Linked DNA regions of Homo sapiens. The protein of the gene in region 2 interacts with the protein of the main gene of each other region in a biochemical or structural test. Each region holds a gene or a part of one and is shown on either strand. Other genes may lie near its edges.

Region 1 (7,023 bases), on a different chromosome or scaffold from region 2:
TTTGGTGGCCACATGGGGAAATGATGGTCGATGGGCACCAGTGAGTAACTGATTCTGGATTGGGCACAGCCCCTGGAAAGGAGGAGGCCAGCTGGAGGAGGGACAGGGGAAAGTCAGTGGGGTGCTGTCTCAGTGCCTGTGTATTACATCCCCCTCTATCTGCCTCTACCGGCCCCATCTTCCCTCCATAAAAACCAGCTCCTAGGAAAGGAACTAATCAGCTTGTTCGCATAAGGTAAAAATGACTGAAAAATAATTAATGTGCTGTCCTTCCAAAAAGCATCTATATTTTGAGGCATAAAATCTCCTGCCAGCAATGCAAAACCAAGTGGGCTGGATGCTCCAAGGTTGCCTCCGGTGCTGACATCCTGCGGTTTCTGTTCTGTTGTGAGAACATACGACATGGGGAGTGTCACATGCAGTATAAACTGGGAAACTCTTACAAATGGCACTATAGTTCTATTGTTTAAATTATATAGGAAAGCGAGGCCACATGAGGTGGTTCACGCCTGTAACCCCAGCACTTTGGGAGGCCAGGGTGGGAGGATCACTTGAACCCAGGAGTTCGAGATCAGCCTGGGCAACACAGTGAGACTCTGTCTCTGTTTATTTTCATATAAAAACATTTTAAAAATAGATTATATGGCCAGGCACAGTGGCTCACACCTGTAATCCCAGCACTTTGGGAGGCCAAGGCTGGCAGATCTCTTGAGGTCAGGAGTTCAAAACAAGCCTGGCCAACATAGTGAAACCCCATCTCTACTAAAAATACAAAAAAATTAGCTGGGCATGGTGGCGGGCGCCTATAATCCCAGCTACTCAGGAGGCTGAGGCAGGAGAATCGCTTGAACCCGGGAGGCGGAAGTTGCAGTGAGCCAAGATTGCGCTACTGCAGCCTGGGCGACAGAGCAGGACTTCGTCTCAAAAAAGATTATACAGAAAAGTGACTTGCAATAAAGGAACTGTACACATGTAGTCAATCAATGAAATTGCAAACAGTGCAGTCGCTCCAGATGTTAGTGAACTGGAGAATTATAGTCTGTACTCTTGCCAGCAAGAAGAAGGCAGAAACGTGAGCAAGCTAGAGGAGGAGGGAAATTGCAAGGGAAAGACAAACGTAAATTGATACTATTATCAAATGTTGCACCATGTGCAAAGTTTGCTACATTTATCTTTGGTCAAGGAGATTCTTAGGTTATTGTTGCTTAGCAAAAGGTCTCTCTGAAAACCTGAGCAAGAGAAAGTCAGTCTTCAAGAGTACCAATACCCTAAAATGACTCATGGATTTAAAACAACACACTCTCCACTGCCACCCCCGCCACAACCACCATAGCCCAGATGAATGCCAACAATTAAGAAAAGAAACGGCCAGGATTCCTTGGACCAGCAAAGGCACGTTTCTAGAGCAGGACGAGAGCTGAAGTGAGATGCTGGGAGAGGAACTAGCCTTGGAAAGGGTGGCGTGCTCCCACGAAAGCAACCCTTTGTTCGGGACAGGAGCTTTGAGCCTGGTAGCTCTCATCCCACTTCTCCAGGCCCTGCATAGTACAGAGGCCATGATCTCAGAATAAAAACCACTTTCAAAAACTACCATCACATAAGTAATTCTTAACTTTTCGAAAAGGTGATTTTCTATAGGCTAAATGGTTATTTTCCCTCTCTTAACAGAACTGTTTATAACTAGGGGAGAAGAGAGGAAGAGTCTGTTTCTTATCTAATTTCACCAATTCCAATGAAGTGAAGAGTATAGCATCCTCTCAGAGCTGGGTGTGGTGGTTTGCACCTGTAGTCCTAGCTACTCAGGAGGCTGAGGCAGGAGCATCACTTGAGGCGAGGAGTTCAAGACCAGCCTAGGCAACATAGCAAGACCCCATGTCTTCAAAAGAATAGAATATTTTCCTGGCAGACCCTGCCCCCCACCCATCAGAGCAGAATTTTCTCCAAAACATCTTCCAAATGTAGGCATATGGCCTGTGTCTAAGCTATATGGAATTAAACTCAGAAAAAGCTACAGCAGGCATGTCCAGCTGTCATCTCCTCAATGCTCCACCCTCTGCCTGGTAATCCCGGTTATTTGGAGGAGTGGGGAATTTTGGTTGTGGGTCTAGGAAAACAGAAGTCTATCCCGCCTCCTCCCACAATCAAAACAGAAGAAACCCTGTCCTAATACACTTAGATCCTTCTGAAGCAAACACAAGGACCACCTGGTGAAAACTAAATCAGTCAGTGCAATAAAATGTTAACTGCAAAGTCTGCATCTAAACAAGCCCTGAAATCTAAAGTGAATCGAAATGAATGTCATCTTCCGTGATGAAGGTCGTTCGTTCCTCATGTTCCTTCCACTCCCTAAAGCAAACATCACCACAAGGTAATTAAATACGCAATGATTTGACAATTCTCCAGCCCAACTCCACATTTCAACACACTTGAATTAGGAAATACTGATCAGAAACTTTCATTGTATCATTATATGACTTTACCCACATTTTACTGGCCTTAGGTGAAAGTGACATTATTGTTGCCTGAGAAATGTACACATGGATGAATGCCACTCACTCAACAGATATTTGAGTAGCTTCTACCTTTCCAGGCACAGAGTTTACTAAACCCTTTCACATCCATTAAGTCATTTGAGGCAATATTATTACCTCGTTTTTACAGATGGGAGAACTGAACTTCAAAAAAGTGTAAGGGGCTGAGAGCAGTGGCTCACGTCTGTAATCCCAACACTTTGGGAGGCTGAGGAGGGTGGATCATTTGAGCCCAGGAGTTCAAGATCACCCTCGGCAACATAGGGAGACCCTCGGCTGTACAAAAAATACAAAAATTTGCAAGGTGTGGTGGCTCACATCTGTAATCCCAACACTTTGGGAGGCCAAGGAGGGTGGGTGGCTTGATCCTTGGAGTTTGAGACCTCCCTGGGTAACATGGCAAAACCCCATCTCAACAAAAAAATACAAAAAATTATTTGGGCATGGTGGTACATGCCTGTAGTCCCAGCTACTTGGGAGGCTGAGGTGGGAGGATGGCCTGAGCCTGGGAGTTTGAGGCTGCAGTGAGCTGTGATCATACCACTGCACTCCAGCTTGAGACAGAGCAAGATCCTGTCTCAAAAAAAAAAAAAAAAAAAGTATAAGCGTCGTGCTGTACGGTGACACATCTTGTGAGAGTTGGCATCAGGACTCAAGCCCAGGAGACACAGTTCTCTTACCCCAAATCTAACACTCTTTCCACTACTCCTCACTGTCTATGTGACACCCAATTGTAACTTTTTTTTTTTTTCTGAGATGGAGTTTCACTCTGTTGCCCAGGCTGGATTGCAACGGTGCAATCTCAGCTCACTGCAACCTCCGCCTCCTGGGTTTAAGCGATTCTCCTTCTTCAGCCTCCCGAGTAGCTCGGATTACAAGTGTGTGCCACCATGCCTGGCTAATTTTTGTATTTTTAGTAGAGACAGGGTTTCGGCATGCTGGCCAGGCTGGTCTCGAACTCCCAACCTCAGGTGATCTGTCCACCTTGGCCTCCCAAAGTGCTAGGATTACAGGCGTGAGCCAACACGCCTGGCCATAACGTTCTTAATGTGTTCCACATGGTATACGACAGCAGAATGCCACAAAGAAGGGGCGTGGTCACTGGATTCTCAACCTGGAAATCTAACTGCATTTACAGCACACATTCTGTGTGGGCAACTCACTCTCTCTGAGCCTGTTTCCTGGTTTTTGTCATGGGCTAATCATTTCCGTCTTGCTGAATTGTAAGGTAACTGGAAAAGAAGCAGGAAAGTCCTTCCCCCACACCTGGGTGCACGGCAGGAGCGACCTGCACCTACTGTCATGAACATCCTTCCTCAACAAAAGCACTGAGGCTTCCCGCTTCTCCCTGGAACAACTTGAAGCTGCTGATGCAGAAGAGATGCCACGCTTCATGGGGTCCTCATGGATCCCCGTTAATACTGAATCCTGCTTCCTAGATCATCCGACCACCTGTGTTAGCCTATAACCAATTCTCTGCAATTGATGTAGAATTTTGTGCCTTCATCTGTGTTCGTAGAACAGTATCAACAGGAGCCATTATTTCCTGAATACAGGGTGATGTCTTTAATCTGGTTTTTAATCTGCTTTTTTATTTGCCTTTCCCACACCATGCATGCAGAGGCCACTGTGGACTCCCAGCAGAAGCCAGAACTAGCAGCTGAGATGACACAGCTGAGACATCAGGCCATCTCTATTGATAAGGCCCATCTGACCAAGCCACACTATGAAAGTCAGAGGCATCATGTGAGAGAAATAAGGAAATTGGAGCTTCCCAGAAAAAAACCCTTCGCTTTCTCTCAGTAGCCCAGGTGTTAGACACCGGCTCTTGCTACAACAAGATAAAATACAACGGGTTTCTCTTTTTGGTGAACATGACAGAAAGAGAATAACCAGCAGAAATCAAGTTGACCAGTAGTCTCTCTTTCTTATTTATTTGTTTTGAGACAGGGTCTCGCCCAGTCACCCAGACTGGAGTGCAGTGGCGTGATCACAGCTCACTGCAGTTTCAACCTCCCTGGCTCAAGTGATCCTCTCACCTCAGCTTCTCAAGTAGCTGGGACTACAGGTGCGTGCCACCATGTCTGGCTAATTTTTTTTTTTTTTTCATTTTTTTGTAGAGACAGAGTCTTCGCTATGTTCAAGACCCGGGCTGGTTTCAAACTCCTTGGCTCAAGCAACCCGCCCACCTCGGGCTCCCAAAGTGCTGGGATTACAGGCAGGAGCTGTGTGCCCGGCCTCTGTTAGCTCATCCATACTGGGTTATCGGGTTTAGCATCCCCTCCCAGTCCCTGTCCCCTGCCTTCTGGAGACTCAGCTGAAATAAAAACTGCCCACATCAAGAGTCCCATCTATGGGGCTGGAGAAGCTGCAGGGATGTCCTCCTCCCAGCGCCTACCAGACCCCCACCCTGCCCCCCCAGCCCTCAAGCACCCACATGAGCTGCTTCTCTGTTAAGCATTCACAGACAATGATCTACCCATGCTATATATTCACCATCAACGTGTATGGAGCACCAGCCGTGCCCTGGCACAGGCTCTGGTGATGCAAAGACACAGCTCTTATCCTGAAAGAGCTCATAGTTAGGAAGGGGCCTGATGAATAACTAGACACTCAGGGTACAGCAGAGCAGCGCCATACCACGCAGCAGGGTGGGGACGGGGGTGGGCTTGGAGTGGAATGTGGAGGAGGTTGTCCATCCCAGGCTTGTTGAGGTTGGGGTGGTCAGGCAGGCTTTCTGGAATGCATAACACAGAAGCTGTTCCGGGAACACACGAAGGAGTTAGGCAGACAGTGAAGGGGTCTGCTCCAGACAGAGCACATCCCCACGGCTTGGCTCTGGGCCACAGCAAGCACAGAGCCCCCTACCCATCAGCACAGCTCCCGACAGCAGGCAAAGGTGACAGTCGCCCCCGGGCTCTTCTGCCAGGGTGTCCTGGGAGGACGTGTGCTTTGGAATCTCTGAGTGTTCTAAGGATCTAGGGGCCTTTGTAGGAGTCCAGCATGGATTCTCTAATGCCTAGCTGTATGTTAATGGAATAGTTGTGACTACATAAAAAAAACAAAAGGCTCTCAATACACAGGTCTCCTGGTATCTGGGTTCAGCCTAACCTGGAAGTGATCACTTCAGAGGCTCCAGGTGGAATCAGATCTTCTGATCAATCCTCAAAAAAACTTCCCTAAGCCACCAGTGCGTGTGTCAGGAGCATCGCGTGGTCACCCATGCACATCGGCTGGGCCTGTTAGCCAAGTCGCTGCTGGGTCTTGGCCATTGGTGTGTGCAATTCACAGCCGGGCAGCTGCTGCAGACACCCAGTCATATACTTGTATAGGAAGAACAGCTGGCTAGCATTTCCTGGCAGCCATGATCAGCACCACAACTCAGGCAAAGTTGAGTTCAAAAATGTTTCTAAAACACTTGCTGTGTGCCCAGCACCTGTTTCATCTTCACTCTGTCACAGGTGTTATTTTTGAGTGGATCAAGAATTGGGTTTATCTGTCCCTCTATCCCATTCTACAGAAGTTTCCCAAGTGGCATACATAGAAAATATTTTTTGAATATATAATATGCAAAATATCACTAAGAGGGACTGGGCACAGTGGCTCTTGCCTGTAATCCCAGCATTTTGTGAGGCCATGGCAAGAGGGTTGCTTGAGGCCAGGAGTTTGAGACTAGCCTGGGCAACAAAGCAAAACTCTGCTTCTACAAAAAAATTTTATAATTAGCTGGATATGGCAGCATGCCCCTGTAGTCCTAGCTACTTGGGAGGCTGAGATGGAGGATCACTTGAGCCCAGGAGTTTGAAGGTTCAGTGACCTACGATCACACTGCTGCACTCCAGCCTGGGTGATGGAGTCAGACCTTGTCTCTAAATTATATATATATATATATATATATACACACACACACACACACACACACACACACACACACATACAAACACATATTGCTAAGAGAATGTGCTGTCTTTTTATGTAAGTAGAAAACTGAGCCACTATCGGAAGACCATGTGGCTTGACTTAGGGTTGGAGCAGGGTGGATGAGCTTTAAATTTATTTCTAGCTCTAATTTTCTTTGAGTCTAAATCATCCTCACTCTTTTACCTGGTTTGATGTGAGACCCACCATATGGTTTTGTGAGCTGCTTGACTAGGACGAGGTTTATAGCCTGACACTATAGACAGACATTTTCTCCCGTATATACAAAAGAAATGGCCCCAAGAAGGAATGAGCAGAATGCACTGGTCCCTTATTGTCCGTCCCAACAATCTCATCAAAGCAGAAGCGAAAATCACTCAGAGAAAGTAAAAAATTTATTCTGAGACTGCAGGTGCATAATGCCAAATAATCAAAGAAAAACCTGTCTGGGCATGGTGGCTCACGCCTGTAATCCCAATACTTTGCGAGGCCAAGGCGGGCAGATCACTTGAGGTCAGGTGTTCAAGACCAGCCTGGCCAACATGGTGAAAACTTAGCTGGGTGTGGTGGCGGG
Region 2 (7,023 bases):
TCCCTCCCTTTTTCCTGACCTTCCTCCACACACCCCCTTGAGCCGGCATATTACCAGTTACTAGAGTAGGTACAGTGGAAGTGAGTTATGAAGCTGGGGTGTTAGCTTCCTGGATCCCTGAGAGAAAGTTCTAAACTCCTTTCTCCCTGATCAGACTCACATCCTAAACGTCTCCCTTTGCCTCGTTGTCTTTTAAAGCAAGAATGTGTAAGAAATTCATTTTGGGGTTGGAGGGATATTTTGATGTTTAGGGCTGCTTCACTAGACATCTTTTTCTTCTGATCTTGTTCTCTCTCCTCTCTTCATTTTCTCAACCACCCTTCCACCACTGAGCCTCCCAAAGGATGACAGCCCAGGTCCTGGCCAGAGTCAGTTCCTGTCCAGATGCCCCCATTCTTCAAAACCCCTTCCTTACCTTTTGGGAAGCCCTTCCTTACTCAAGTCTATCTCTCTTTCCTCCTGCTGCAGTGTGAGCCCTTGCACATCAGAACCCCCAAGCCTAGGTTTATTCCCGCCCAGTACTCTCTTCTCAGGGTCCTCCTCACTCCTCAGACTCTTTACCTTTCAGGTCCTCCAGCTCTGCGTGTGGGCTCATTGCTCTTGGGGCATCTGGGTGCAGCTGAATGGTACTGCAGGAAGGCCCCTGACTTGGTAGTGCTGGGTATGAGCGATAGAGAACCTGCCTCCCTCTTCTGTCCCAGATTTCAGCCTGGTTAGCAGGATCCTGCATTGTTTGGAGAAGGAAGCAGTTGGCTTTGGAGTGTTTCCGGTGCAATGGCCTCAGGCACCAATATAAACCCTCCCTGGGAAAGAGGTGAGGGGTATATGTGGAGAGTTGTCCCTCTTGCTCCCCTAGGGGAGATGAAAGCCTCTCCCTCTCCCACCAGGCCTTAGCTTCCCTGGCTGAAGAGCTCCATTTTCCTCCCTCCTTTCTACCCTCCTGACTCCAGGGGTGGTAGTGGTCCCTATTCTGGGTCTCCCTTGAGTCAGGCACTGCCTAGGGCCGAGACTCTGTCTCTCCAAGATAGGACAGATCTTGCTCCCACCCTACTCTAGGCTCAGCGGGGTAGTCATTCTCTGGGTTCATCCCAGGACAACTGTGTCATCCCCTTGGCAATCTCTGGACTGAGCCCCCTTCCTGGCTTTTCTGGCTGTCTGTCTGTCTTTCTGTCTGTCTGTCATTAGTGTGCGCTGTCTTGGCTTTTTAGAACCTCTCTGTCTCTCACCCTCTCAGTTCATCTCTTACTGCCGAACCTTTGTGACATTCTCTGCCCTGCTTTCTGCGTCTCTGTCACTTGTCTTATTTTTCTCTGCCTGTCTCCATTTACCCCCATCCAGGCCTCTTGGTATCCCAAAAGCTTCTTGGGAGCAAGAGTCTCTCTGGGCTTTCCCACTCACCCCCTGGCTCCCTCCCCTCTGTTTTGGCTATTTTTCCCCCTTCCTGGCCAGACCCAGTGTCCAGTTCAGCACCAAAAGTTTCCTCTCCACTTTCCTCCGACTTCCTCTTTCTTCTTCCCCCTCCACTAATTTGGGGAATGGGTTTTGGAGAGAATGTTTCTGGAAGAAAGGAACTTGATACCCTTTGTGGGCTAAGAGGGAGAAAGGAGGTATTTCAGAAGGAAGGAGGGAGGTTAGACTTCTGGCAGAACTTCCTCCTGACCAGGAGCCTAAGAACTGGAGAAAGATGTAAGGAGTGAGTCAAGAACTTGGAGCTTTTACTCTGGTGAGCATAAGCTGTGTGTGTGGCTGGGGTGGGGGGAGAAGGAGAGGAGGCTTAGAAATGCCTGGTGAGTGATATGGTGACCTCTGGAGGCCTTCTGGGGGTCTGGCTTTTATTTGTGGGGAAAGGAAAAGCTGGTGGGGGAGGTCACGGGTCAGGCTAATGTCCTGCTGCATCAATATTGACTCAGAATGGAAGCGGAGACCCTTCCCCTCCCCTGGCTGTCCAAGCCACCCTGTCTGTCTGTCTGTCCAGGCCGCAAAGCAGAGGCCCAGACTCAGGAATGACAAAAATGTGTCTGAGCCTCAGGAAAGAGCCACTGGGCAACACCCAAAATACAAAAAATTCAGTGAAAACCTCTCGGTTTGGGTTTGGGAGGCCCTTGCTGCCCCACCCCCATAAGGTCGAAAATTCAGATTCCTGCAGGCTCTGTCCCCGCGCCGCCCCCCCACCCCACCCCCCGCACCTTGAGCATCCTCCTCCCACTCTGTTCCCTTAGCTATATCATGTGGTTCCCTTTAGAGAACCCCCCTCTCACCTAGCTCAGAGGGGAGCCTATCTCTCCTTCTGCTGTGTCCACTCTTAAAAAGGGCCCCAAGAGTCCCTGTCATGCTTTTGCAGTCCCTGAGTCTCCTTGTCCTTTAAGAAGCACCTCTAAGGTCTTAGCTCTCTTCCTTGCTCTCGCTCCCTCAAGGGGGTATCAAAGGATGGGTTCCCCTCCTCTGGAGAAGACTCCTTCAGGGTTGGACTTCGCTGTCACCCTCTCTGGCCAGGCATTCTCACCCCACTTCCCCACCCCCAAGGTCCCAGAATGGGACACAGAATGACAGCCAAGGGTCAAGCAGGGCAGTGGGGTCTGTGTTGTGTCTGGACGCACACCCAACTCTACACCTCCTGCCCTGGCTCCAGCTTGGTGGCCCTGGGGACCGTGGCTGGGCTGGGTGCCTGGGTTTGGGGGGGTGGGGCAGGGTGTTGGCCAAGTTAGCATGGCAGTCACATTCATCTTCAGGCAAAGCCGAGAACAGACGGCCCCTGTGTCCTGGTGTTCTTCCTCCAAACTCGCTCTCTCTCCTTCCTCTCTAGATCTCTCCTTCTTCTTCTCCTGCCTGTCTTCCCCTTCTTCTGTCCCATTCTTGCTCCTCTCTGTCTCCCCTATGCCCTTCCCTCCTCTCTGAGGAGCCCTGAAGGCCACCCCTTAAAATCCTCTCCCCACTGCCAGGGCCAGAGAACGACAGCGTTCTCCCTGCAATTTCCCTTCCTTGTTTTTTGTTTTTGTTTTGTTTTGTTTTTGAGACACAGTCTCACTCCATCACCCAGACTGAAATGCAATGGCGTGATCTCTGCTCACTGCGACCTCCGCCTCCTGCTAATTTTTGTATTTTTAGTAGAGACAGGGTTTCACCATGTTGCCCAGGCTGGTCTCAAACTCTTGACCTCAAGTGATCCGCCCATCTCCGCCTCCACCTCCCAAAGTGCTGGTACTACAGACGGGAGCCACTGCGCCCATCTGGTTTCCTTTCTTTCTTTCTTTTTTTTTTCTTTTGAGATGGAATCTCGCTCTGTTGCCCAGGCTGGAGTGCAGTGGCGCGATCTCAGTTCACTGCAAGCTCCGCCTCCCCTGGTTCACGCCATTCTCCTGCCTCAGCCTCCTGAGTAGCTGGGACTACAGGCGCCTGCCACCACGCCCAGCTAATTTTTCATATTTTTAGTAGAGACGGGGTTTCACCGCGTTAGCCAGGATGGTCTCGATCTCCTGACATCATGATCTGCCTGCTTCGGCCTCCCAAAGTACTGGGATTACAGGCATGAGCCACCATGCCCGGCCTGGTTTCCTTTCTTAACCCGGCTGCATCCCATGACCTATGAGGAAACCACCTGCTCAGTTACCAGTCACCCTGTGCCTCAGCTCCCCCATGTGTGAGAGGGGGGCCGCAAGGGCACCCACCTCACAGGGTTATAGTATCTAAGTGAGTTAATAGTCACCGTATTTCCAATCAGTGGCTGGTGGTTAGCAAGGTGAAAAAGGTTAGCTCCCATCGGTCAGGGAGACCTCCGGGTTCTCTCATGCGGGCCAGGAGGCGGGGAAGGCCTTAGTTGCTTTTGACCTTAGGGCAATGTTGTTCTCTCATCTAAACTGCAGGCCACAAAGGTGGGTTTTCTGGGTGCTGGATTCAGACACAGAAGGCTCTGCTGAGGGGAGTGGGGTTGGCTTTCCCTCTAAGCAGATTATAAGGGTCCTACCCCGCTCCCAACTCAGCTCTCTCCCAGCTCTGAGTGAGGCTTCCCTTGGCTGTGTAGACTGTCCCAAAGTAGTTTATTTGTTTCTTTCTTCCCTCTCCCCCTGAAGGAAATCAAAGACAGGCCTCAGCCTTCTCGCTCCAGATTCCTGGGCCCTTCAACACCAGCCCTGACAGGAAGTTCTTTCACGTATCTCTCTGCAATCCTTGTGCTGGCCAGGCCCTCGGGAGATGTGGCCCCCTCCCCCGGTGCTGCTGTGGGATAGGGGCCTGGGCCCTCCTCTTCCTTTCACTTGTCCCATCCCCCATCCCCTCCCTGCAAGAGCACATCTGGTTTGTGAATCTCTCTCATTCCAGCTTTTGGAGTTTGCCAGCTGCTGTTTCCTCTGTGGAGTTCAGGCCAAAAATGGGGGTGGGGGACAGCGGGGGGGACTCAGTGAGGGCTAAAGGAGGGGGCACCATGGCTGGGATGTGGAATGGAGGGGAGGTTAGGTGACCACCCGGTGACCTCAGGCCGTGGCTGTGCGCTCTGCCCCTGGGAGGAGCAGGGCATGGACCAAGTCCCAGGTGGGTGGCACGGGGGTCTGTTTCTGGGCTCCAAACATCTCATCTGCCTCTGAGTCCCATTCCAGCCCCCCTCTTCCCCCTCAGCCGGCCACGGCTGGTCAGGGGAAGCGGACGGTTCTCCGGCATGCTAACTAGGCTGGCGGGCTGTGTTTCCCGGGAAGACCTCACAGCTGGCCCAGTGGGGCAATGAACTCAGCATTATCCACCTCCTCAAGGGGCCTTTATTCCAGGCTCAGGGTGGGGGCCAGGGGAGGGAGGCTGAAGGGGGAGCCTGGCTAGGCCATCCTTGATGTGTTTCCTGAACTCGGTCATTTTGGCCAGGGGCCTGAGTGCCGTCTCCCCTGCCAGCGGTGGGGGTTAGGAGGGAAGACATCTCAGTGAGGCTCCCATCAGACTCCCTCCCTCCTAAGAGCCCCCCCCCCCCGCCATTTTCCTTATACTTCTGTCTCTGCCCTGCATTTGCATTAGTTGGGTACAGCTGTCTTCTCAGGCGACTCTGGCTCCTGCAGGGCAGAGGGTCATCTCACCCTCCTTGGCACCCTGATGCCTAGTGCAGTGCCTGGCATAGAGCTGGCCTTCAGTGTGTGCCAGCAGAATAGAAATGTGATGGCACAGTCTGAGGAAAAGCCACGAAAGGCCAGGAGACTGGGAGCTCAGCCTTGGGTGGGGGAGAAGGGGTGGGTGACTGTTCCTCCTGTGGAGGATGTGGTGATAGAGGTTGGGAGGAGTGGGAATTCGGAGGACTGGTGTGGATTTCACTGGTTCAGAGCTTGGAGTCAGCTTAGCTGGTTTTGTCACTTGCCAGCTATTTGACCCTGGCCAAGTCACCTGGCTCAATTTCTTCATCTGTGAAATGGTGGTATTAGTTGTCCCTATTTGTCATACTGTGGAGGGAATTAAATATGATGATACATGGAAAAAACTGCTTTACCACAGTTCCTGGCACATACTGAGCCCACAATAAGAGTTAGTTGTCAGCCGGGTGCGGTGGCTCACGCCTGTAATCCCAGCACTTTGGGAGGCTGAGATGGATGTATCAGATGAGGTTGGGAGTTCGAGACCAGCCTGACCAACATGGAGAAACCCCGTCTCTACTAAAAATACAAAATTAGCCATGCGTGGTGGCGCATGCCTGTAATCCCAGCTACTCTGGAGGCTGAGGCAGAAGAATCACTTGAACCCGGGAGGCAGGGGTTGCAGTGAGCCAAGATCGTGCCATTGCACTCCAGCCTGGGCAACAAGAGCAAAACTCTGTCTCAAAAAAAAAAAAAAAACAACAGAGTTAGTTGTCACCATTCTTAATTCCTCCTTGGGGGATGAGGGAAGAGAATGGGGTAGGAGTGGAAGAAGCCTGATTGGGGTGGGAGGGTAGGGCCAAGAGGTCCTGAATATAGTAGCTAACTAGTTGGACTGGACTGAAACCAGTTCCTAGAGTTCATTTCAGCCATCCCCCTGCCTCTGCTCCCCAATTCTGATATCTTGAAAATCTTTAGGTGCTTCTTAACTCTAAGGATGTCTACTGAAAGTCTCCCTGAGGTCTAACCAAGGGAGGCTGTGTCTTTAGAGAATGGAGAGGACAAGGCAGGTGGATCACCTGAGGTCAGGAGTTTGAGACCAGCATGGCCAACATGGTGAAACCCCGTCTCTACTAAAAATACAAAAACTAGCTGGACATGGTGATGCATGTCTGTAGTTCCAGCCACTGGGGAGGCCGAGGCAGGAGAATCGCCTGGGCCCAGGAGGTGGAGGTTGCGGTGAGCTGAGATTGTGCCACTGCACTCCAGCCTGGGGGACAGAGTGAGACCTTGTCTCAAAAAAAAAAAAAATAGGGAATGGAAATGGAAGCAAGGCTCTCTACCCTGCCCATTCCTGCCCAGCCTTGCCCTCCTGTGCCTCTGCTAATACCATCTCCAACTACTACTGTGTGTGCCAAGGGCATCCCTCCCCACTGCTCCCATCTGGGGGCCTAGTGATTAGGGGTTGGGAAGGATGGGGTGATGGGTCAGGGGACCAGGAGTGTCCCAGAAGGCAGGGAAGCAGAGAGGTTAGATAAGACCAGCTCGGGGCCTCTAGTAGTAGGAGTTAGAGGAAGACAAAGAGAAAACATGTCAAGGCCTAAATGCACCCCCCTTCACCATCACTCTGTCATCAAAGCCAGGGGGTGCTGGTGTCTGATGAGAGTAACCAAGAATAGCAAAGGCTTTGACCCTGACTCCCAGGAACAGGCAGCCTAGAGGACTTGGAGGGGTGCAGTAAAATGTGCTTCTGGATCCTCCCCACCCCCACCGCAGATACACAGTGTCTAGGAACTACCCAAAGCCACCCCCTGACACCCCCAGGCACATAGACCATGGCTGAGGGTCTGGGCCAGATGGAGACTGATGCTAGGGAAGGAAGAGCAGTACTAGGGGACTTTGGGTTCACAGAGTTGGCCTCCATCCTTCATTTATATCCCCTTTTCTTTCCTTGCCCTAGCCCCTAAGACTTGCAGCCCCAAGC

Evidence for each region. Proteins that work in one complex are often made in the same cells at the same time.
Region 1: the proteins of LRP1 (region 2) and PLAT form a complex in vitro, tested with the Homo sapiens proteins (2 studies listed by BioGRID).

What each region holds. Positions count from the first base shown.
Region 1 is NC_000008.11:42,197,564-42,204,586, forward strand, and holds part of PLAT (tissue-type plasminogen activator isoform 1 preproprotein), read right to left. Parts: intron 1-7,023. UniProt on the Homo sapiens protein: Converts the abundant, but inactive, zymogen plasminogen to plasmin by hydrolyzing a single Arg-Val bond in plasminogen.
Region 2 is NC_000012.12:57,131,460-57,138,482, forward strand, and holds part of LRP1 (prolow-density lipoprotein receptor-related protein 1 preproprotein), read left to right. Parts: intron 1-6,999; coding exon 7,000-7,023. UniProt on the Homo sapiens protein: Endocytic receptor involved in endocytosis and in phagocytosis of apoptotic cells. Required for early embryonic development. Involved in cellular lipid homeostasis.